7 linked regions of the Homo sapiens genome follow. The protein of the gene in region 1 purifies or fractionates together with the protein of each later gene. This does not show direct contact. Each region holds a gene or a part of one and is shown on either strand. Other genes may lie near its edges. The genes, in order: RER1, OSBPL8, OAT, LETM1, TMED7, IARS2 and STX12.

The links.
Region 2: the proteins of RER1 (region 1) and OSBPL8 purify together in Homo sapiens (affinity purification with mass spectrometry, with the first as the bait; one large-scale study listed by BioGRID). This does not show direct contact.
Region 3: the proteins of RER1 (region 1) and OAT purify together in Homo sapiens (affinity purification with mass spectrometry; one large-scale study listed by BioGRID and IntAct). This does not show direct contact.
Region 4: the proteins of RER1 (region 1) and LETM1 purify together in Homo sapiens (affinity purification with mass spectrometry; one large-scale study listed by BioGRID and IntAct). This does not show direct contact.
Region 5: the proteins of RER1 (region 1) and TMED7 purify together in Homo sapiens (affinity purification with mass spectrometry; one large-scale study listed by BioGRID and IntAct). This does not show direct contact.
Region 6: the proteins of RER1 (region 1) and IARS2 purify together in Homo sapiens (affinity purification with mass spectrometry; one large-scale study listed by BioGRID and IntAct). This does not show direct contact.
Region 7: the proteins of RER1 (region 1) and STX12 fractionate together in Homo sapiens (co-fractionation; one large-scale study listed by BioGRID). This does not show direct contact.

What each region holds. Positions count from the first base shown.
Region 1 is NC_000001.11:2,398,341-2,401,840, reverse strand, and holds part of RER1 (protein RER1), read right to left. Parts: intron 2,427-3,500; coding exon 2,327-2,426; intron 985-2,326; coding exon 906-984; intron 1-905. UniProt on the Homo sapiens protein: Involved in the retrieval of endoplasmic reticulum membrane proteins from the early Golgi compartment.
Region 2 is NC_000012.12:76,353,772-76,357,271, forward strand, and holds part of OSBPL8 (oxysterol-binding protein-related protein 8), read right to left. Parts: intron 2,958-3,500; coding exon 2,855-2,957; intron 2,251-2,854; coding exon 2,118-2,250; 3' UTR 1-2,117. UniProt on the Homo sapiens protein: Lipid transporter involved in lipid countertransport between the endoplasmic reticulum and the plasma membrane: specifically exchanges phosphatidylserine with phosphatidylinositol 4-phosphate (PI4P), delivering phosphatidylserine to the plasma membrane in exchange for PI4P, which is degraded by the SAC1/SACM1L phosphatase in the endoplasmic reticulum.
Region 3 is NC_000010.11:124,408,924-124,412,423, reverse strand, and holds part of OAT (ornithine aminotransferase, mitochondrial isoform 1 precursor), read left to right. Parts: intron 1-223; 5' UTR 224-252; coding exon 253-451; intron 452-3,458; coding exon 3,459-3,500. UniProt on the Homo sapiens protein: Catalyzes the reversible interconversion of L-ornithine and 2-oxoglutarate to L-glutamate semialdehyde and L-glutamate.
Region 4 is NC_000004.12:1,821,657-1,825,156, reverse strand, and holds part of LETM1 (mitochondrial proton/calcium exchanger protein precursor), read left to right. Parts: intron 1-1,381; coding exon 1,382-1,513; intron 1,514-2,025; coding exon 2,026-2,169; intron 2,170-2,844; coding exon 2,845-2,976; intron 2,977-3,500. UniProt on the Homo sapiens protein: Plays an important role in maintenance of mitochondrial morphology and in mediating either calcium or potassium/proton antiport. Mediates proton-dependent calcium efflux from mitochondrion.
Region 5 is NC_000005.10:115,616,037-115,619,536, forward strand, and holds part of TMED7 (transmembrane emp24 domain-containing protein 7 precursor), read right to left. Parts: intron 3,164-3,500; exon of another isoform or gene 3,103-3,163; intron 410-3,102; coding exon 173-409; 3' UTR 1-172. Other genes in the region: TMED7-TICAM2 (TRAM adaptor with GOLD domain isoform 1 precursor), read right to left, coding at 282-409. UniProt on the Homo sapiens protein: Potential role in vesicular protein trafficking, mainly in the early secretory pathway. Appears to play a role in the biosynthesis of secreted cargo including processing and post-translational modifications.
Region 6 is NC_000001.11:220,104,132-220,107,631, reverse strand, and holds part of IARS2 (isoleucine--tRNA ligase, mitochondrial precursor), read right to left. Parts: intron 1,742-3,500; coding exon 1,572-1,741; intron 572-1,571; coding exon 481-571; intron 1-480.
Region 7 is NC_000001.11:27,776,219-27,779,718, forward strand, and holds part of STX12 (syntaxin-12), read left to right. Parts: intron 1-3,500. UniProt on the Homo sapiens protein: SNARE promoting fusion of transport vesicles with target membranes. Together with SNARE STX6, promotes movement of vesicles from endosomes to the cell membrane, and may therefore function in the endocytic recycling pathway.

The sequences.
Region 1 (3,500 bases):
TGGCATGGCCACCAGTGCTCCCTCCCGTCCCAGCACATGGCCAACAGATGCCACGGCCCTGGAGGCTCAGCTCTCCCTTCCTAGTCCAAGCTTCTGGTGGCTTCCAGGGCCCCTGATCTTTCTGTACCACACTCCATCTGCGGCTGCAAAGTCAAGGCGTGGAGCCCCACGAGCTCAGCAGGCTCCTTCAGTTTACTGATCTAACAGACTTGGGTTCCTCCTGTGCTCCCAGAGTGGGGTATGAGGGACAAGACAAACGGATGCACACGCTCCCGTCCCTCTGACGGCTGCACCACCCACCTCTGCCTACCCGTGCAGACACGGACACCTCGGCTCAAACCCCTCTCAAAAATGACTCCAGGAGAAGGCTAGTCCCTCTGCCAGCCAAAAGGAGCCACAAGGCTGGGGATGGGAGAGAGGAAGGAGGAAGGAGGGAGGAGGAGGGAGGAGGAGGGAGGAGGAGGGAGGAAGGAGGGAGGAGGAGGGAGGAAGGAGGGAGAAGGAGGGAGGAGGAGGCAGGAAGGAGGGAGGAGGCGGCAGGAAGGAGGGAGGAAGGAGGAGGGAGGAGGGAGGGTGGAGGAGGGAGGAAGGAGGGAGGAAGGAGGGAGGAAGGGAGGAGGAGGGAGGAGGAGGGAGGACAGAGGGCCTGCCCTCCCCAGGCCACAACCACAGAAGCCGGTGCGCACTCCATCCCAGACTCAACCTCCAGGGCACTGGTGCTGACTTGAAACCAAGAGAATGCGGCAAGGTAGTGAGTGGCCTTCTACAGAGAGCCCCTGCGATTCCCCGTGCCCAGCCCAGCACAGCAGTCATCTTTCAGGTGACTTGAACAAAAATCAGTGTAGTCTCAGTCTCAGCCACCCTTGAGCACAATTCTCTTCAAATACCGTGAAGAATTAGCTCACCAAAATTTAAACTCTGGGAGCCTTCGAATGAAGGGGCGGAATTCCTCGTTCTGTTTGGTGGGTAGCGAAGGACCGTCATCTGTAAGGCAGAGCAACCATCAGGGAGGGCACCTCTTTTCATTCCCATCACAGTTCTACCTTTTCCCCTCAAGGCTTTGGACTAGCAGGCCTCACAAATCTAAACCGAGATTCATGTCATTTAACCAGAGAAAACGAGAAAACGGGGGTCTGTGGTCAACTGACACATCCAATTCACTGCTTTCAGAAGGTGCTATCAGAATGTTTTTAGACTTCCACACGTTTTCAATGCACGAAGAATTCAACCACATATAAACATCCAGGAACACGTCAGCTGCACCACGTAAAGGCACAGAAGAAAACAAAGGCAAATTAACATAAAAAGCAAGCGGCAGAGAACAGGGCGGGGCCGAGGATGCGCTGACCGTGGAACCCGGGCGCCAGGCCTGTCCCACCAGCAGCTGTGCCAAGCCCACTCTCACCCCGCCTCCCCCACTGGGATGGGTGCCGCTCCCCATTTACAGATGGGAAAACTGAGGCCTACAGGAAAGGGGCTCTTTGTTATTTTCTAGTCTCCTCCAAACAGCAACAACAGAGAGGGGCTGTGTTCCCAGCAATCTTTTCATCACATATCCTACACAGAAGACTCACAGGCTTCTGGCCACACAGTGAGAGCATACCCTACTCCCTGACAGCAGGTTCCCCCAGAACGAGGAGGGTCCTGGCAGGGAGCTGCGTGTGGGTTTTCCCTCAATGGCCACCACGTCCTGGAATGCAGTTGTTTGTTCCTCGCCTGGGGCTGGCCAGTCAGGCATGAACTCAGGGCCCCTACCTGGCCCAGGCAGGCCCAGGAGCTGCGTAAGTCTTCCAATAGTGGAGCACGAAGCACCAGGAACACTTCAGCTCACAGCTCCTCAGAAACCAGAGAAGGCCGCCCAAAGCCTGACCCGACCCGATGCTGGCATTAGAGTCCCGGCGGTCTCTGTGCACCACAGTGAGCTGCCTGTGGAACCCTCTGGCTACGGGAAAAGGTAACCTCGTCATGGCTGCCTCCGCTGATTCTGAGAGGGACCACTGACTGGGGTGGGACGGGGGCTGGAGTCGGACTGTCCACCTCAGACCCCTACTGTCTGTGGTGCCATGTGACCTCGAACACGTTACCTAACCCTGTATGCCTCAGTTTCCTCATCTGCAAAGTGGGAAAACAGAATGAACACCCACTTCGTGGCTGTCAGGAGGGTTTGAAGAGTCATTCTACAAACATATCCTGATCACCCAACATTACAAGTACATTTCAACCCCAAGAGAAGAGTCTCGGGTGTTTCCAGAGAACACTGGGCAATCCCATCAGAAAAGAAAGGCCCAACCTGCCCACACAGCCCAGTGCACAGCCGCTACCCTACCTGAGTCTTCCATTAAGGAAGGATCCACTTTGGGAGAAAGAAAAGCTATGAAAAGATTTAGATGGTAGATCCCCAAGGCATAGGTCACAATGTACCAACCCTGAAAGAGAAGGAAAGAGAGTCAGTGGTGCACTCTGACCGTCCATCAGCCTGAGCCAGTTCACGTTTGCACTCCGGTTCACTCTCAACTTTGTTAACTGATCTAACTTTGTTTTAACACAAAACTTACTCATAGCAAGGACAAGGAAATACAGTGAAATCCCATGGTAACAATTTATCTCAAATTATACTCTGTGGGAACAGAGACAAAGCGGACAAGCAAGGGCCCAAATGAGCAAAGCTCTTCAAGGGTCCAGTTAGACACATGTGATCCCTGAAGCCACAGACGCCCCACAAGGAGCGCAGCAGAAAAGGAGGCTTTTCTCAAGAAGCACATGCTCAAGCTACACCACAGGCTCGGGTGGCCCGGGCACCTGAGCGATGCTGGCCCAGAGCCCCACCCAGGAGCAGCTTCATCAGAAACAGAAGACAGACTCTCAACTGTGACTGGAGGCGTGCTGGCTGATGTTCCTCCAACAGACAATTCACATTGCCAAAAACACTCTGCCAGGAGGGTTAAACCTTTGCCCAGAAGAAATCCACAACTGGGAAATCCAGAAAAGTGTGCTTATGCCAAGCCTTCCTCAAGAGATGAAAAGTGGGGAGAATTTTGGCAAGATGCCTGAGTGCAGCACACTTATTTGCAACTAATTCATTTTTTAAAATGATTAAGCATATCCCGTTAAAAGCCAGAACCGCATTCTCAATTTCAAAAGCCTTAAATTTCTGTCGGGTGTGGTGGCTCACGCCTGCAATCCCAGCACTTTGGGAGGCCAAGGCGGGTGGATCACCTGAGGTCAGGAGTTCAAGACCAGCCTGGCCAACATGGTGAAACCTCGTCTCTACTAAAAATACAAAAATTAGCCAGGCATGGTGGCACATGCCTGTGATCCCAGCTGCTCGGGAAGCTGAAGTAAGAGAATCACTTGAACCCAGGAGGTGGAGGTTGCAGTGAGCCAAGATCAGGCCACTGCACTCCAGCCTGGGCGACAGAGTGAGACCCCATCTCAAAACAATAAATAAAAATATAAATGCTTTAACTTTCTTATACAAACAAGAAGTCTTTCTGCCTAAA
Region 2 (3,500 bases), on another chromosome or scaffold:
AGTCATGAATAACTCTGCTCTTTCTTAAGAAATAGTTTTTGACTCTTTGGGTAAGAACCCATAACATTTGCTCTAAAAAGAAATTTTAAAAATAAAGAACACAACTACCTATTTAGTCTTAGAAGATACCCATACAAATAAAATATTATTTGGACCAAATGAAAACAACATACACGTGGATAAGACCAAAGTCCTAAGAGGTGGGTCACCAGTACAAAATGTTAACAAGGTTTACTGATGAAATGATTTTTGTGATAAGCCAATCAATTTGTATGTAATTAACTAATTTAAACCATAAAAAAGATCAAATTGTACAATATTTACAGAATATCATATATCAATGAATAGGCAGAGTGTAACAGAATGTGAATACAAAAATTATATTGACAAATATAAAATATAACCAAAAACCCATTTGTTCTAATATCATGAAAATACTGGGTATAGGTAGATCTTATTTAAGCTTTTATCAATTTAAAACATCATTTCACATGTACATATGGAATACAGCATTATTTTGCCAAGAAAACATGGGAAATGGTTCTTCACAGAAACCTAAGGATACTTAAGATAGCTATATTGGTTAGGGAAAAAAGCAGGCTCTTTTTATCATTTTGATTCTCATAATTTACCAATCAATGTATTTATTTACCAATCTTGTATTTATCATGGCATAAACGATTATAATTTTACTATTTCACAGCCTCCTCCTACTGAAAGGCAAATGTGGTCAGGGCAATTATTCTCTCTGACCTTCATTTTCATTAAAAAAACATTTCAAAATCTATGCTTTCAGGATTCTAAGACATATTTTAGAACAACATATTCCTAAACTGAACTACCTTGGCAAAAATTGCTTTCAAGGAATATAAATATTTACGTAAAAACACAAAATCAAAATATTAAACTGAAGAAACAAACAAAAAAATTTGCCTTAGCCTGAACAATAGGAATCTTAAAGAATTGTGGTTTTGCCACAGAAAGAAGTTACTAAGAAGAGAGGAGGATAATAAAAAAATTAAACTTCAGAACTTGATACTCTTCGTAGATACTCAACTTATTACACGTTTTACAGAAACCAATTTTAATGCACACATAAAGGCCACCACAAAGTGTCTTTTCTTATTGCCTCTTTTTGGCTTTTGAAGTAAAATACTGGTTATATTTTTTTATATTCTACTTATTCACTGAACACACTGGAGTCTAAAGCTAAAATAAGTTTTCATAATGAAAAAACATAAATTATCAGCACTTCAAATGCTCTATAAACATCTCTAGAATTTGGCCTATGTTATGAACCAGCTGACTTAAGAAAAACAAAAATAAGACAAAAGGACAGCAATCAATTTTGACCACACTTTTTTCAGCAAGTGCTTAAGGTGGTATTATAATCAATCCAATTAATTGCACACCAGTGTTTTTATACTGATATACACGTAAGTATATATATTTACCTGCATCTACAAATATTAAATTCTAGGGGTTAAAAAAAACTTATGTAAACTTTTAAAAAAGCAATTTGCCATTTATCTCTCTCGATGTATTCATTTTGACCATTCATACTTTTTCTTTCTTTCTAAGAAGATAATTGAGCTGAGTGCTTTGCAAATGATTTTAACAGTAGTGTATTGAATTAATTATGTCTATTATTCCATCATTTCTCAATCTGTAATTCCTTACTGATAAAACTTTTGTGCCTGTTTTATGAAGAAAATAGATTACATATATTTATAAGATTGATAGCATTTTTTGTTATGAACAATGTTAACATTATATCTCAGAACATACTATAGAATACAAAGACTACTGTCAGGTAGGAGTACATAAGAGACAATTGTGTATACATGTGGGTTTATTATACTCATATGTAGACACATTCTCACAAAAGCTAGAAATGTCCTGGCACTTAACACATAGCTCACTTTAATAATCAAATAGGATAGCTCTTGTTTCAGTGTGAAGATAAAAGATACGAAAAGTCAATACCTCTACATTTATCTCCTAGGTTTTTTTGTTTTCGGAATATTGTGATTTTTAATAAAGACCAAACCAACTTGAACACTGGTCCCAGGCCAAATCAGATCTTTCTAGTTCACTGATTCAATGGTAGAGAACTTCTACTTGAACATGAAGTTTATTATGACTTGAAGCAAAATCAGGAGGAAAATGATGAAGTAGTCTTTTTGTTGCAGAAAATAATCCGTGGCCGGTGTGCTTGAAACTAAATGATTTCGAAGAGCCATAATATTTCTATAAAAATAAGCAACAACAAATTTTGTAATGATTTGCCAGAAATGTTGGCATAGAGCCCACAATTTGATATTAAACAGTCACAGAGCATTTAATGTTAATAATTTTTAGTTGCTGGGTCATGGGGTGGTATGTAGGGGTGGGGGGGGGCGGGGTCTGGGACTGCAAAGAGGAATACTTAAGGGCTCAGGGAGTAAATATTTACCCAATGTTATGGATGTATTTCAATATTTCAACTGATGCATTCCAATGAAATAACAGCCATGCACAGAGGGGACTATAGAGGCCTTTGTTAACTGACTTTCTCAGAAACAATCCCACCTCCACATGCAACCCAGCTACATTCCTAGCATGCTATAGGAGTAAAATAAAGTGATTCCAATTCTACCCTTACAGAGAAAAAACAACCTCTCCTTCCTTCCCAAGTATTTTAGTGCTGGAGGAATTTCGTAAGTGTCAAACATCAGGTGATAGAGGCTAAACATTGTATTTTAGCTTAGCTAAATGTTATAAAAATATGAAGTCTGCATATGATTTCCCATATAACAGGATTCTTAACTACTCCTTGGTCTCAAATGAATAGTCAGTGTCATTATATTATTACCTTTTAATTTCTTCCTGTGTTTGTTTTATAGATTCGATGGAACTCTGAATGTCTCCCAGTTCTATTCCTTTCTTTCTTCTTGTACTTGGTTTTACTGATTGAGCTAAAAAGACATTTAGAATGAAGTTGAAACTATAAAAATAATCTACAGTTCAATTTAATGTGTCTCATGTAATAAAAATTTTCCTGGGCATTTGTTTTTGTAGCCTAGAGATTAGCATAGTAATATGAATACTCTGCACTTTTGAAGTTTCAAACACATCATTGCAATACTAGAACACTACAAATATATTTAAAGTACTACACATTAGTTGAATTTTGGATGGCACCAGTTTTTTTAACTAATTAAAACAGAAATAATTCATTAGAAATACATATTAACTTGAGGAAGGTATTACTCTCTTCTGTTCCTTGCCCATTTGCCTACCTCTGAAGTCAGCTTCTTGAGCCCTTTTTTCCAATTTTTTATTGTGAGTGTTTAGTTACCTAAACTTTAAATCCCTTTCGACACCACTTCTGCAAATTTTTACTGCCAATCAGCAAGCTGTACATGTTTTTCCAAATTCCCTACATATGCATTCCTTCCTTTCCATTTTTGTTCAGATCCTACTTAACCTCTCTGCAAGTGTCAGCTTTCTCATTTTAA
Region 3 (3,500 bases), on another chromosome or scaffold:
TCCTCCCACCTCAGTCTCCTGAGTAGCTGGGACTGCAGATGCATACCACTACACCCAGCTAATTTTTCAATTTTTTTTAGTGATGGAGTCTTGCTCTGTTGCCCAGGCTGGTCTCAAACTCCTGGGCTCACGTGATCCTTTGACCTCAGCCTCCCAAAGTGCTGAGATTATAGGCATAAGCCAAGGATTCTCACTCTTAATGCATTCTCTTTTCTTTGGACAGATCTGTGGTTTTTCTACTTGAAGGACACAATGTTTTCCAAACTAGCACATTTGCAGAGGTTTGCTGTACTTAGTCGCGGAGTTCATTCTTCAGTGGCTTCTGCTACATCTGTTGCAACTAAAAAAACAGTCCAAGGCCCTCCAACCTCTGATGACATTTTTGAAAGGGAATATAAGTATGGTGCACACAACTACCATCCTTTACCTGTAGCCCTGGAGAGAGGAAAAGGTACGTTTCAAATTAATCCGTCTTTTCCCTTTTCTTGAAACCTTTTATAAAAAAAAATTGCTTCCATATTTTCACAATATACATTTTTCTAGATGTGTTTAATGTGTATATTGCAGACATGGTTAATTCTTCTTCTTCTTTTTTTTTTTTTTTTTTTGAGACGGAGTCTCACTCTGTCACCCAGGCTGGAGTACAGTGGCACAATCCCAGCTCACTGCAACCTCTGCCTCCCAGGTTCAAGCGATTCTTCTGCCTCAGCCTCCTGAGTAGCTGGGACTACAGGCGTGCGCCACCACACCCAGCTAATTTTTGTATTTTTAGTAGAGATGGGGTTTCACCATGTTGGCCAGGCTGGTCTCAGACTCCTGACTTTGTGATCCTCCCACCTTGGCCTCCCAAAGTGCTGGGATTACAGGTGTGAGCCACCACGCCTGGCCAGTTAATTCATTTATTGAGTGTCTAGTGCTGCTGTGTTAGGTGCTATGGAGGCTTCAAAGAGGAACCATTGTCTTTGTCATGTAGACCTTACCAAGAGGGAATGCAAGAGAAATAAGGAAAGTACTATCATATTGCTGTCATTTTTTTCTTTTAACTTTTATTTTGGCATAGTTTTAGACTTAAGAAAAGTTGTAACAAATAGTACTGACATTTTCCTTTTATACTTCTCCCAGATTTTCCAAGTGCTAACTTTTTGCTGCTTTGGTCTTAGTGTGTTCACTCCCTTCTCTTCTCCCCCCGCCGCCTGCATATTCTACATTGTTTTCTGAACTGTTTTGAGAGGAAGTTGCAGACATGACATCTCTTCTTCTTTTTTTTTTTTTTTTTTTTTTTTTGAGACGGAATGTCGCTTTGTCACCCAGGCTGGAGTGCAATGGTGGGATCTCGGCTCACTGCAACCTCTACCTCTCGGTTTCAAGTGATTCTCTTGCCTCAGCCTCCCGAGGAGCTGGGACTACAGGCCCACGCCACCACGTCCAGCTAATTTTTGTATTTTTAGTAGAGACAGGGTTTCATCATGTTGGCCGGGCTGGTCTCGAACTCCTGACCTCAGGTGATCCACCCACCTCAGCCTCCCAAAGTGCTGGATTACAGGCGTGAGCCACCGCGCCCCGCCACATGACATCTCTTTACCCATAAATACTTAGTGTGTCTTTCCAAAAACGCAATGACTTTTTGAGATAGGGTCTCATTCTGTTGCCCAGGCTGGAGTTCAGTGGTGTGATCATGGCTCACTGCAGCCTGGAACTCCCGGCTTCAGGTGATTTTCCCACCTCAGCTTCCCAAGTAGCTGGGACTACAGGTGTGCCTTACCATGCCTGGCTTATTTTTTGTAGAGATTAGATTTTGCTATGTTGCCCAGGGTGATCTTGAACTCCTGGTCTCAAGTGATCCTACCACTCAGCCTCCCACAGTGCTGGGATTGCAGGTGTGAGCTACTGTGCCCAGCTGACTTTCTCTTTTATAACCATAGAGTAATTGTAAAAATCAAGAACTTAACACTGGTACAGCACCATTAGTCTAGAGACCTAATCCAGATGTCATTTGTTCTCTTTTATAACAAAAGAAAAACCTCCGATGAGTTGCATTCAGTTGTCATGTTTAGTCTTCTTTAACCCAGAACAGTTCCTCAATCCTTGGTTGTCTTGGTCTTCTTTCCCTTTGTATTAAGTATCTTGTGGGGACAGAGTGTAAAACTCTGTAAATATCCAGTTACTCATGAACTTTTACTCACAATTTCAGCATCCACTAATGATTCTTGCCTGAATAAATGATTACGGTGGTAGTTGCCAAATGGTGATTTAATCTACAATTTGGAATAAATAACAGCCTTAACCAAATAAAACCAAAGTTTATTACTTAGCTTTGTACCAGAAAATGACAATATAAGAGTATCACACATTTTGGTCATTTGCTTGTATTTTATTTGGTACCAGTACTGTAGACATATCTTCTTTTGAACTATTGAAAATCTGTTTCATATTACATGACATGGCAACCTTGTTTTTACTTTCCCACTAGCAATGTATGAGAGTGCCAATTTCTTCAGATCCTTGTCAAAAGTTGTTTTTTTAATTATAACCATCCCAGGGAGTATGAGATGGTATCTCATTGTGGTTTTAACTTGCATTTTCCTAATGATTAGTGATGTTGAACATCTTTTCATGTGTTTCTTGCCATTTGTATATCTTCTTTGAAGAAATAGCTATTCAAGTCTTTCCCCATTTTTTAAATTGGGTTGTTTGTCCTTTTGAAATTGAGTTGTAAGAATTCTGGATATTAGATCCTTATCAGACACATGATTTACAAATATTTTTTTTCCATCCTAAGGGTTATTACAGTCTACTTCTCATGATTTTTGTCTGTTATGTGTAACTTCTGCTTTTTTATTTTTAAATTTTATTTATTTTATTTTTTTTTTTTATAGGCAGGATTTTGCTCTGGTGCCCAGGCTGGAGTGCAGTGGCACAATCTCAACTCACTGCATCCTCTACCTCCCAGGCTCAAGCAATCCTCCCACCTCAGCCTCTGTAACGGGACCATACGCGCGCACTACCATGCCCAGCATTTTTCTGTAGCGTCAGGGATTTTGCCGTGTTGTCCAGGCTGATCTGGAACTCCTGGGCTCAAGCAATCCCTGCCTTGGTCTCCCAAAGTGCTAGGATTACAGGCGTGAGCCACGGCTCCCTGCCTAACTTCTGCTTTTAAATTCTAATTTTGGATCCTAAATCTTAGAATTAGGTAAAGGTTTTACTCCAGAGTTTATAACCTTTTTGTGTTATTTTTGTTAAATGTGTGTTTTGAAGCTGGGCAGATAAAATACAATTCTTAGTAATTCCTTACAAACCAAAGTTTATTATGCCTGAGCTAAAACAAGCTTTAACTACAAATATGTATTAAATAGAGGTTCATATATAGGCATTCAGAGGGCTTGCTAGCACTCTTAATTTTTGGACTTTATGCCGTATAGTAATTGTCTAAAATTATTTTCCTTTCTTATGTATTTTAGGTATTTACTTATGGGATGTAGAAGGCAGAAAATATTTTGACT
Region 4 (3,500 bases), on another chromosome or scaffold:
CCCTTCTCTTGGCCACGCCCTGTGCTGGTGCCTGGTTCCCAATGCCATCAAATTGAGTGGCTTGTAGGTCGGAAAGTGACAGCCCCAGCCACTCACTCTTACATGGAAAGGTTAAGGGGTGCAGGGCTCCAGCCGGTTTCCTCCCGGTGCCCTGGCACTGGCATGCCCTTGTTGGCAGTCATCCTCCTCCCGGGTTTTTCACACAACCTGCAAGTGTAGATGAAGGTGTGTGTACACACTTCTCCTCTCGACACAGACAGTATTTATGGCGTGATCCTGTGGCACCCCCTGCCTTCCACAGCCGCGTCTTCCATCGGATTCCCCAGCAGAGCCTTCTCTGTGTCTGGCATGGGTGCTGACCTCCCTAGCACTCTGCCCAGCCTTCTGGAGCTCCGTGGGGATATGGGCCACACACACAGGGGTGTCTGAGCAGGGGGGCAGGTGCTGTCCCTGCCCAGGCCCCTCGGCCCCCAGGGGAGTGTGGCGCATTGGGGGCCCGAGTGTCATGTGTTCACACTTTTCCTTCTCTACCCACCTCTCGGTGGTGCCTTTCTTCTCTTAGGGTTTGTTCTCATATTTTCTCTACCCACTTCTCCTCAGCGTTGCCTTTCTTCTCTTAGGGTTTGTTCTCATGTTTTGCCCCGTGTTCAGTTTGTCTCTAAACATTGTCACGGTCTTTCTTGCCCATTTGGAGATTGTCTTGGTGTTACTCAAGCAGCCAGCCCCGGAACCTGGCCTGTGCAGAGCCTGCAAGGGCCCGAGTGCTGACCGGCCTCAGTGACACTGCCTCTGCGGGCCCGTATATGTTGACCTGGGCTGGTCTTGTTTCTTTGTTTGAGACAGAGTCTTGCTCTGTCACACAGGCTGGAGTGCAGTGGCGCGATTTCGGCTTGAAACAACCTCCGCCTCCCTGGTTCAAGCAATTCTTGTGCCTCAGCCACCCAAGTAGCTGGGACTACAGGTGCACACCACTATACCTGGCTAATTTTTGTATTTTTAGTAGAGATGGGATCGCCATGTTGGCCAGGCTGGTCTCGAACTTCTGACCTCAGGTGATCCGCCCACCTCGGCCTCCCAAAGTGCTGGGATTACAGGCGTGAGCCACCGCGCCCGGCCCCTGGGGTGTTTTTAAGTGAAGAGTTGGTGCCCTGTTCTGAGGCCCTTGGGGTCCTCGCTGTGGGGGTTGCTGACCCCCAAGCCTCTCTGGTGTTTTGTTTACTAACGCCGTCATCGGGTCACGCAGCACAGCAACAAACAGACCTTGTAGAACTTGAGACACTGTCTTCTCTGAGAGCTATTCTGGTGATGAGATGGGCGGACCTGCTGTGGGGCCAGCAGGGTTGGGGGGCTGCCCATCTGCTGAACCTGGCCTTGGTTGCAGTGGCTGGACCTGCACCTGCATCAGGAGATCCCCACATCGCTGCTCATCCTGTCCCGGGCCATGTACCTCCCGGACACCCTCTCTCCAGCCGACCAGCTCAAGTCCACACTGCAGACCCTCCCAGAGATTGTGGTACGTGCTGTCGGAGACCCCTTTTACCTCATCTCTTCATAGGTGGCTCCGCTCTTCTGGGGTGGGGGGAGGTGTGCAAGCGCACTCATTCCTCAACCATGGGCGAGGAGCCTGCCTCCCACCCCCTCGCGAGTGCCCCCACCCAGCCACCTGTCCCCTTCCTTCCATCCCTCCTCACCAGCCCCTTGCCTGCCATCCCCCGTGTGGCACAGTTGCCAGTGGTCCCGACCTGGCCACGTGTTGGCTGCTGTGGATCTGGGCCGCGGCCCTTGGAGCTGTGTCAGCAGCGCCTATGCTCCTTCCCACATGTCAGGAGTCATCGGGCGAGCGCAGAGGGCGGCCCAGGGGCCTCCCAGCAATTGCGGGCAGCACCTCGGCAGTGCCTTCTGTCCTGTGTGTGTGAAGCCCAGGTGGTGACGGGGCAGGGGACACAGGACACAGGACAGAGGTGAGGGGCAGCAGGGGCCTCTGGTGGCTTCTGGGCTCACCCACAGATGTACCCTCTTCTGAAGGCAAAGGAAGCACAGGTGAAAGTGGCCGAGGTGGAGGGCGAGCAGGTGGACAACAAGGCCAAGCTGGAGGCCACGCTGCAGGAGGAGGCGGCCATCCAGCAGGAGCACCGTGAGAAGGAGCTGCAGAAGCGCTCGGAGGTGGCGGTAAGCGGTGGTCCTGCTCCGTGCCGCGTGGGGCTGTCCTGAGCCAGCCTCCCTAGAAACCCCCGCACGCCCACAGTCTTGGCCTCCCGCATGCTTGCCCTGCAGCTCTGTCCTGCATGTTTATTTCCTCCTGGAGTGGTCAGGGAGGCAGGGTGCCCGGGTGTGAGGGCTGCAACTCTGACATGGGGACTCCCCGATGGCCACAGTGGTGCTCATGGGAGATATACCTTAGCCGTCTCAGAGGGGCAAGCTTAGCATATGGCAGTGCCCACCCTCTCCTCAGGGACTTGCTGTGAGGGGCGCTGGCAGAGGAGCTGCAGGCTCCCCCAGCCTCTGGGCTCCTCTTCAACGCGGGCCCTGTGGTCCTCTTGGGTCACATGCATGGTGCCCACCCACAGGCTCAGCCTCCTGCTCTGCAAGTGACAGGGCAGCTTGGGGGAGTCTTGGGGAGACCAGAGATGGATAAGGTGCTCTAGCCTGTTCTGGAGAGGGCCCCAGGTGACCTGGCAGCTGCATGGAGCCTCCCTAGGGACCTTCTGTGGCAGGTGTGCTGCCCAATGTCACCTGCAGGCCTGCTCCCAGTGTGGCCTCTGCCATATGTTCTGAGCTTCGGGGAGCAAGAAGACTGCTTCTGTGTGATGGCGGGCGCTGGGCTGGTGTCGCCTTGCCTTTCAGAAGGATTTTGAGCCCGAACGTGTGGTAGCTGCTCCCCAAAGGCCGGGGACCGAGCCACAGCCAGAAATGCCTGACACAGTCCTGCAGTCAGAGACCTTGAAGGACACTGCCCCGGTGCTGGAGGGCTTGAAGGTAATGAGGCAGGTTCTGGGGCCCTGGAGGCTGAGGAGGGCATGGCCTGGCTTTGTGGACAGTTGTGGGGCAGGGATGGGGACAGGTTAGCTGGGGCATCTATAGCCCTCAGTGAGAGGAGATGGTGCAAGGGGTTGAGGATGAGGCCACTGGGCCCCTAGGAGGCTTGGTGGTTAGGAAAAGAGTGAGTCCGGCCGGGCTCCGCACTGTGCCTGGGTGCACAGCAGCTGACGCTGCCGTGAACTTAGCACCCTGGCCCACAGTGTGGCAGGTAGAGATGCCAGTCGGCAGGTTTCAGGGCCCTTTGCCAGCTTGCCCAGACAGTGAAGGGGTGTGGAAGCCAATGTGGCCCCTCAAGGTAGAGCCTCCTCCACAGGCCCAACCTGCTGTCACCTCCTGTGGGGTGATCTGGGCTTGGAGCATCTTCAGACTCCCCATGCGAGCCTGTGAGGTGCAGCCTCCAGGCGCCTGTGCTGCCTACCTGGGGCGCCTCCTGGTACCTTCCATCTTGAACTCGCGGGCTG
Region 5 (3,500 bases), on another chromosome or scaffold:
ATAAAAAAAGGTGTCCTTTCCACAGTTTGGGAATATGCATTGTACATCCCTCCCAACAAGTGTATGAGTAAGGATTTAAAAATGTTGCCAATATTAAGTTCTTCAGTACCTAAAATTAATTAGAGGACAGCAATATTACAGTGGCAATGGTGCATCAATTCTCAAAACGTAGTTATGATCCAACACGAGTTGTGGTGGTTCTTTTATCTGAGAAAAAGCTTTTCAAAAGAAATACCTGCCCTATGCTAACCACCAGAAGAATGAGGGCTTCTCCTACTGACCAATAGGCCACTCTTGTATTTAGATCCTCTGCTCGGCTTCGGCCTTGAGCTTCTCTTAAACGGAAATGAGTCTGATAATCGATGACAGACTTCAGAGCTTCGTGAATTGAAACACAGGCAGATTCCATCTGCAGAGAAATATTTTCAGTCAGTATGTGTGATACTTTCTGTAGACTTCATCTATCATATTCAGCTTTTCTTTCAATTTGATCTCAATTCCTCTTTTGACTAACATGCTACTAATCTGGCATTCATTCATACATTTATGCCAGTTGTCTTTGCAATGAAACCCCCCTGCTCATTTTCACTGGGACAACTGTTAAGGCTAGAGATCTCATGAAGCAGCTGTTTTCCCCAACTGAGATGTCACAGCCATGGCATCAGTAAGGGGGCAGATGGAACACTAAGCTAACAATAGCAGAAATACTTATCAGCTAAGGTTGGTGACTACAGAATTTCCAGCCCAAGTTCTTTAAAGAAGAATTAGGAAGAAAATGGCAGTGAGCTCACCAATGAGAATATAAGTCAAAGCCCAAATATCTATAAAAATAAACAAAGCACAGTACAAAAAAAAGCTGAATTAGTCAAAGTTCTTTGAACTATGTTTAAAACAGCCACAACATCAAAATCGTTAGTAACTTTTAAATCTGAAAGGGATCTATCAGAATAGGAATGACTTTGTTTTTTTACATTTATCTATTTGTTAAATCAGCCTTTTCCCTCATGCCAGTCAACTAAACCAATATGTATGTTCCCAACAGGATGCAAGTTTCAGTTTCACTGTGTAATCAATTTGTGAGCCTTTAGCTGATAACAGCTTGCCTTTTTATACATTTATTATACCATCTGTTTTGAGAAAGGTTAAATGACTAGTTTTTTTGTATACCATGGTTTAATATTTTTCTACTGCTGCAAACTTAATCCTAGTGGTAAAATATATGTTTTATTATTATTTTATGCAACAAGCCTGTATTAAGAGTTTTAAAAACAAATCTAAGTTTGTTTTAATTTTAGTTAAGGAATATAGAAATTAGAAAATAATGTTTAATGAAGTTCTGCCAAAGTAAGTATGAAAGGAATAATTATTAAAATATTCTATTAAAAGTGCTTTTAAAAAATGTAAGAAATTATGAGGCCAACAAACTGCATTAACCTATTAGAAGAGTCAAATATTTTTGTTGTCCTTGCTTTGTTCAGGCCCCTAGGAATGAAAAATTTGCAAAACTGTGCTAAAATGATTCCTAATTTGTGATGAGGAGCTAGAGAGAGATGTGCTTCTAGGATTTGCTTTCTCTATATTCTCAAAATGGCATATTGCCCAAGGATTCTTCACCTGGAAAGTACACATAAAGGCAAGGAGTTGACCCAAATGCAGAATATTTAGGAACTCCTTCAAGCCTGTCCATGGGGTATGGGTTAAGAACTACTGGATTAGAGAAAATCACAGAAATTAAATTACATGCATTCTACAACTTTTGAGATGTGACTTTTTTTGAGATGGAGTCTCGCTCTGTCACCCAGGCTGGAGTGCAATGGCGCAATCTTGGCTCACTGCAACTTCCACCTCCTAGGTTCAAGTGATTCTCCTGCCTCAGCCTCCTGAGTAGCTGGGATTACAGGTGCACTCCACCACATCCAGCTAATTTTTGTATTTTTAGTAGAAACAGGGTTTTACCATGTTGGTCAGGCTGGTCTCTAACTACTGACCTCATGATCCGCCCGCCTCGGCCTCCCAAAGTGCTGGGATTACAGGCGTAAGCCACCACGCCTGGCCTGAGATGTGATTTTTAAAAAACTTTTACAGTGAAAACTTCCATATATATTCAAAAGTATTGAGAAAAGTACAATGAACCCCCACCATGTCAACAAAGATTAACACATGGCTAATCTTGCTTCATCTACATTCCCCGATTATTTTTAAAGCAAATCTCAGATATTTTATCACTTCAGCTACAAATACTTTTATACTTTATTTCTAAAAGATAACACTTTTTAAAAACATAACCCCAATAGTATTATAACACATGAAATAATCTAAAACAGTTCCTTAAAGTCAGGAAATAGTGTTCAAATTTCCCCTATTGTTTCAAAGTTGGTTTTCAAGTAAGAATCCAAGTAAGGTTAACACAATCATTTGGCTGATGTAAGTGTTCATTAATCTTTAGGCTTTCTTCCTTGTTTTTCCTTTTTTCCTTGCCATCAACCCCTATCCTGTGGCATTTCCCACGTCCTGGATTTTGTTGATTGCATTCCCATGTTATTCCTTTATCCTCTGTATTTCTTGTAAACTGGCATTTGGAGCTAGAGACTTGATGGAATTCAGGTGCAATGTTCTGGGTGGGAACGTCTAGTAGTCAATGTTGTGTACTTCTTACTGCATATTATGATAAGGCACATAATGTCTAGTTATCTCTCCATTTGTGAATGATCATTCAGTCTGATCCACTCAGTATAAAGTTCCCCATCAGCCTTTTACTTAATGGTTTTAGTAGTGACTGCTGATCATTGCCTACTCTAAATCCATCATTTTATCAACAGGTAAAAAATGGTGAGAGTAAAACTTTTATCATTTATTCTGCATTACTAGCTGGTAATTTTGTTCTGAACTTACTAGCTGGTAATTTTGTTCTGAACTTACTAGCTGGTAATTTTCAATTTTAAAGTATGAAAAGTTGCTTTATAATGATCCCTATTATATGATACATTATCTTTTTGAAAGTAGAAAAATAAGACTGAGAAAAATAAAAAATGTAGCATGGATAAAGACGGGTATGATACTAACTGCTTTATTACCATTCATTTCTTATATTTACCCACTTAGGTTTTTAGAACAAGCCACCTTATACAAGTTAAAATTCATGAAGGAATGGATACAGGTTAAGGTAATGGCCCCAAAGAAATATCATTTTACAAAGCAAGGTGTCCTTCACACAAGACCTTAAAATAAAGAGAACATTTCTAAAATTAAGAGTATTTGAATATATCTTGCTAATTCTAACAACAGGTTTATGAATTAAGGCTTTTACACATTCTTAAAGCTGTTTCTTTCACCATGACTTTGGCCAAGAGACTAAATAGAACCTGGGAACACTAAAATACCAGTTTAAGATGTTAACGAATAAGTGGTAAATAATTCTTTTTCATGCCTAATTGAGTAACTTTTAGATACGATCTAAGCCCATACAGGTTGAGTATCCCTTATCCAAAATGTTTGGGACC
Region 6 (3,500 bases), about 220 Mb from region 1:
AATAGCCTTAGTCTTAGTGTGGGCAAAGAAAGGTTTTCATAGCACTTGGTCTCTGAATCTGTAAAGGAAGACAGAAAGACAATTCAAGGCTGGAGGATTCCCAAGATTCTAATACATAAATCATGCCATATAGGTCAGTTATTTACAAGGGTTAAAAAGTGAGTAGGGAATGTGTAATTTACAGTCAACATCCAGCCCTGATCTTGATTGTATCCTTCCACAAAAGTAATACTGCTGATTATTATCTCCATAGCCCTAAAATAACTTCACTCCCTGTTGACTGCCCTGACTTGCTTAAATAAAGCAGCTTCAAAGCAAAAGATGAAAAAGTCCCAAACTCCATTTTAAAACATATGGCAAAACAAGACATAATTTATTTTTTTGTTTCTGTTAAAGTATAAGGAGGGAAAATAGGTAGCAAAGGTTACTGCTACCTACTTTTCAGAAAACATGTATGATATCAACAGATATGATGCTCACCCACATCAGTTCCCTCTTCAAGGACAGCCTTGTTTTGAAGTTCAGGACCTGCAACATCTGTGAAAACTCCATCTTCGTCCACTAGACAATCCTATAAAGTATCATTTTGAACAATTAAAATATCAAGACATTTTCTCTTATGACAATATCTGGCAAAACAATATATATAAAAACATCTCAGTATAGCCTGGTCTTTTTCTACATTGAAATTCTAGGTACTTGGCCGGGCGCGGCACTCAGGCCTATAATCCCAGCACTTTGGGAGGTCGAGGTGGGCAGATCACTTGAGGTCAGGAATTTGAGACTAGCCTGGCCAACATGGTGAAACCCACTTCCACTAAAAATACAAAAATTAGCCAGGCATGGTGGTGTGCACCTGTAGTCCCAGCTACTCGGGAGGCTGAGGCAGGAGAATCGCTTGAACCCTGGAGGTAGAGGTTGCAGTGAGCCGAGATCATACCACACCACTGCACTCCAGCCTGGGCGACAGAGCAAGACTCCCTCTCAAAAAAAAAAAAAAAGAAAAGAAAAGAAAAGGAAATAGGAATTTGTGAATTTTATACATTTAAATCACCAAAGCCAAAATGTGTTATTGAAGCATATCCATAAACTTTAATAACAAAAGTAACAAAATATATTAAAACATCTTTGAGTGGTCTCTATTGTTTCCAAATCTATGCCTATATACACAGTTGTTCCCTTTCTGACTCACCTTTTAACTAAACGGAAATACTTGCTAAGTAACTGAAGTATGTAAAGTAAATGTAGAAAGGACTGTTTAGCTAAAACAAACAGGCTTTTTCAGGGAATAAAAGTAATTTGTCTATGTGACTTGATACTAGAAAAAAAGTATTTTAAAAGTGCCCCATGATATATATTCTTCAATTCTAAAGTGCTAATTTTCTATTAATTCTGGGAAATCTTTTTCAATTAGTACGAATTAATGAAACTTTAGAGTACTACACAAACCTGAGCATTTCACAATTATGATGACAAAAGTCATCATTTTTAAAAAATGAAGATGTTGGTTAGAATTTATCATTTCCTTTTATTAAGATGAATAATTAAAAATGATAAAAGAGGAACAGTACCATGGGCAGGTTGTGCTGAGACGCTACACCGTAGTCTTCCATACCATGAGCTGGGGCTGTGTGAACCAATCCCGTTCCTTTTGCCATGGTCACATGATTTGCAGGTAAAAGAGGAGAGGCTTTATCAGGAATTAATGGATGACTGCAAGTACCATTTTCCAAATCTACACCTGTGGGGAAAGAAAACCACTATTAAGAATCATTTTATATGGCAAATCTATCTCCTTAAGCTTAGCAATAGAGTATCAGGTTAAATGTGCAGAATCTAGAACAATACTGGCTAGGCTTAAATTCCAGCTTCCCCTTTAACTTGTTCTGTGACCTTCTATAATCTATAAAATGCAGATAATTATGGTTCCCACCTCAGAGGGTTTCTGTGAGAATAAACAGAGTTAATGTAGTTTAAGTGTTTTGATACTTACTGCATCTACCACTTAATATTCTCCCTCACCACCCTCCCAAAATGATCTCTAAGTAATTGATAAGAAATAATTCATTTTTTTCCGGAAAGAAAACCTACCCCATACAAATTACTTCATTTTTAGCTCTTCAACATTCCTACTACTTTAATAAGTAGTAGCTACGTGACACCAGCTTATTTTGACAGGGATAATATATATACTCCTCCACAATATGGTGACTCAAATAGCAACTCAATAATTATCTGATAGTAAGAATTTGAAACAATTATGCTATCTAGACAAAAGATCTTTAAATTCAACCTTAACACTTTCAAAAATCTTGTGATTTTTAGCTTCTATGATAATGTATAACTTGACAATGAAGTCTTTAATATCCTCTGCATTTATAAAAGAGCAGGGGGCTGGGTGCAGTAGCTCATGTCTGTAATTGCAGCACTTTGGGAGGCTGTGGCAGGAAGATTGCTTGAGCCCAGGAGTTTGAAACAAGCCTGGGCAACACAGTGAGAGAGGGTGTGAAGTAAATTATTATCTTGGTTTTTATTTTTATTACCCTATTGCACCAAAGAGGACCAAATGGTCTTCAAAATTCTTAAGCTCCTTTCCTGCCTCTGACATAAAAATCTTTTTATTTTTGTTAAGGTTGTTTAAACTTCTCATTGGCTTGTATCTGAACTGATTAATTTAGAGGGCTTTCCTATTTAGCTAGGCAGTCTTTCTAGGCAGTTTTTGTATCTTTATTCATGTGATAGATTTTTTAGCAAGAAATTAAAAGATATATCATACCTAAGGATCAAAGATAATTTTAGCCCAGGCATGGTGGCTCACGTCTATAATCCTACCACTTTGGGAGGCAGAGGCAGGAGGAACACTTGAGCTCAGGAGTTCAAGATCTGCCTGGGCAACATAGTGAGACCTCATCTCTTTAAAAATAAAATAAAATAAAATAGAATTTTAGTCCAGGCACAGTGGCTCATGCCCATAATCCCAGCACTTTGGAAGACCAAAGCAGGAGGATCACTTGAGGCCAGGAGTTCAAGACCAGCCTGGGCAATGTAGCAAGACCTCATCTCTACCAAAAAAATTAAAAATTAGTCCAGCATGGTGGCACACACTTGTAGTCCCAGCTACTCAAGAGGCTGAGGCAGGAAGATCACTTGAGCCTAGGATCCAGAGGCTGCAGTGAGCCAAGATGGCACCACTGCACTCCAGCCTGGGCAACAGAGCAAGACCACGTCTCAAAACAAAATGAAGAACAACAACAACAAAAAGCTAATTTTAAACTTCCCTAGACTTCCATAATTATATTTCAAAGCAGTCACTACCTCAAAAGTCCCAAATTATAGCTCACAAAGAATTATTTTGGGCTAGGCACAGTGGCTTACGCCTTTAATCCCAGCACTTTGGCAGGCCAAGGCAGGCAGATCACTTGAGCCCAGGAATTCCAGACCAGTCTGGGCTACACAACAAGAATTCATCTCTGTAAAATATTTTTTCAAAATTAGCCGGG
Region 7 (3,500 bases), about 25 Mb from region 1:
TTCCAGGCAGTATGAAAAGTGCTTTACATACATTATCTTATTTTATAACAACTCTGAAGCACCAGTATCATTTCCATGTTATGTATTAGGAAACAAACTAAGAAAGGTTAAATAGTTGCCCTGCTAACAAATGACAATATCTGAATTTGAAACTAGGTCTCTTATGACCAGCAATTTGTCTTTTTATTACTTTTTATTAATATTACAGTTCTGGGCTGTGCTCAGTGGCTCACACCTGTAATCCCAGCACTTTAGGAGGCCAAAGAGGGAGGATTACTTGAGGCCAGGAGTTTGACACTAGCCTGGACAACATAGTGAGACCCCATCTCTACAAAAAAAAAGTTAAAAATTAGCCAGACATGGTAGCATGTGCCTGTAGTCCTAGCTACTCAGGAGGCTGAGGCTGGAGAATCTCTTGAGCCCAGGAGTTGGAGGCTGCAGTGAGCTGTGATTATGCCACTGTACTGCAGCCTGGGTGGCAGATCAATACTTTGTCTCTAAATAAATAAATTAAAAATAAATAAATCAATAACAGTGCTATAGCAGTTAACACTTCAGGTTTACAAGTATGCAAATAACTTGTTTTTTCACTCTCCAGAGGACACTCTGTGGGGGAAATACCTGAAGCCGTGGTGCTTTCTCTTCTCGTGGTGTGTTCATCTCCTCTGCCAGATTGTTAGCTCCTTTGAGTCAAGGGACATGACTTATTCATCTTTATATTTCCAGTACTTATCTCAGTCCCAAACATATGAAAGATTCATTGATCCACTATGCAACAAATATTCCTGGAGCACCTGCTGTGTGCTGGGGTGAAGCAGAACAAGAGATAAAATCCCTCCCCTGATTGTGTGTATATGTGTGTTTCTGTGTGCGGGGGGAGTATGTATACACACATACGTACATACACATATAAATAATGTCAAGTAATAATAAATGCTATGAAGAAAAAGCAGGGTAAGTGGGTAGAGAGTCAGGGAAGAGGGAGGGTGGGTGCATTATTTTAGTTGATCAAGGAAGGCATCTCTGAGGAGCTGACATTTGAGTGAGTAGACATGTGAATGAAATGAGCAAGAGCTGTGTGAGTAGCTGGGAAAGGCATTCTAGGTAGAGGGCAAGAGCAAGGACTTTGATGTGTTCAAAGAAGAGCAAGGAGGCTAGTTTGGCTGGAGTACCGTTAGAAAAGGGAGGCAGAATAGGAAAAGAGGCCAGAGAGGTAACCAGGGATCACATTATATAGGATCTTGATGCATAATAAATTGTATCAAATTGATTTGAATGAATGAGGCATTTCTACCATTTTGGAACTCTTCCTGCCTCTTTCCCCTTGTACTGTGTAGTACATACCATATCCTATGACCCTAGGCAGTGTGAGTTGAGATTCTTCCAGGCCGGACACGGTGACTCACGCCTGTAATCCCAGCACTTTGGGAGGCTGAGGCAGGCGGATCACAAGGTCAGGAGTTTGAGACCAGCCTGGCCAATATGGTGAAACCCTGTCTTTACTAAAAATACAAAAAAATTAGCCAGGCGTGATGGTGCACGCCTGTAATCCCAGCTACTTGGGAGGCTGAGGCAGGAGAATTGCTTGAATCCGGGAGGCGGAGGTTGCGGTGAGCCGAGATTGCGCCACTGCACTCTGGCCTGGATGACAGAGCGAGACTCAGTCTCAAAAAAAAAAGAAAAAAGAAAGAAATTCTTCCTTTGGAATTGTTTGGTGAGAAATGGGAAATCTGAAATTGATGGGATGACGTTGCATCTACTCAGTTATCAAGCTAGTGCCTATCCCCAAACCTCTCCAAGAGGCCAGCACACCCAAATATACCCTTAGAATATGAGCTCTCAGACATATATATTACCCACACACCCATACAGCCCTGCAAGGACTTGTACCCATTAAAAGTCTGAGAGCATAGTTATTCTTTTTTCTAAACTGTTCAGCCACAGATGTGGGGTTGGAATTGCTGAGCACATCAGCCTGAGATAAGGCAGCTCACTGCGTGGGTTGTTACAGGTACAGCTAAGGTTGACTGCCTGGTACAAGTGGTGATTATCAGTATGTGTTGGGTACAGAAGAAAAATATTTGACTTACTGTGGAACAAAGTGTCTGGGCAAGTATTGCTGAGGCAGATATAGCTGAAAACCTATTAGCCTCAAAGTTAACTCTGAAGGGATTAAAGAACAGCATTTCTGACTGGGCGAGGTGTCTCACGCCTGTAATCCCAGCACTTTGGGAGGCCGAGGCGATCGGATCACCTGAGGTCAGGCATTCGAGACCAGCCTGGCCAACATGGCGAAACCCTGCCTCTACTAAAAATCAAAAAGTAAGCCGGGTGTGATGGCAGGCGACTGTAGTCCTAGCTGCTCGGGAGGCTGAGGTAGGAGAATCGCCTGAACTGGGGAGGTGCAGGTTGCAGTAAACCAAGACCAAGATCGCTCCACTGCACTCCAGCCTGGGCAACAGAGCGAGATTCCATCTCAGGAAAAAAAAAAAAAAAAGAACAGCATTTCTGTTCTTTATGTTGCTAATTGATGTGATCTTGTTTACTAACAAAATAAGAAGAGTGGAGGTCTCACTCTGTCACCCAGGCTGGAATGCAGTGTGCAATCGTAGTCCACTGTAACCTCAAACTCTTGGGCTTTAGCGATCCTCTTACTTGAGTCTCCCAAATAGCTAGGACTACAGGCATATGCCACTGCGCCTGGCAAGTTGTAAAAGTTTTTTAGAGACGGGGGTCTCGCTGTGTTGCCCAGGCTGGTCTTGAATTCCTGACCTCAAACCATCCTCCCACCTCAGTCTCCCAAAGCAAGAAGAGTTGAACATTTAAAATTGATTATTATGAAATCCTTGGGGTTCCACTTTCAAAGTTATTTTCATGTTTGCCCCTTATTTTTTATGTTTCTTTGCTATCCTCTTAAGTATTCATCAGCTCAACATCTGTATTTCAACAGCATATTCATAGTGTCTCTGATTATGGTCTTGCCCCATTCTAGTTTATACTGATGGTGCTATCAGCACTATGTCTAAAGTCCTGTTTTTATTATACTGCTCACTTCCTCAAGAGCCTAAAGTGGCTCTCTGTTGTCTATTGAATCAGATGGTTTTTTTTGTTTTTGTTTTTTTTTGTTTTTTTTTGAGCCAAGTCTCACTCTGTCGCCCAGGCTGGAGTGCCATGGCGCAATCTTGGCTCACTGTAACATCCACCTCCTGGGTTCAAGCAGTTCTCCTGCCTCAGCCTCCCGAGTTGCTGGGATTACAGGACCTGCCACCACGCCCAGCTAATTTTTGTATTTTTATAGAGACAGGGTTTCACCATGTTAGCCAGGCTGGTCTCGAACTCCTGACCTCAGATGATCCACCTGCCTCGGCCTCCGAAAGTGCTGGGATTACAGGCATGAGCCACCGTGCCTGGCCTGAATCAGATCTTAATATTTCACCTTGCTTTCACTCCCTGCGATCTTAACCCAAATTAGCCATATTTTCTACTCTTCCTTACTCTTT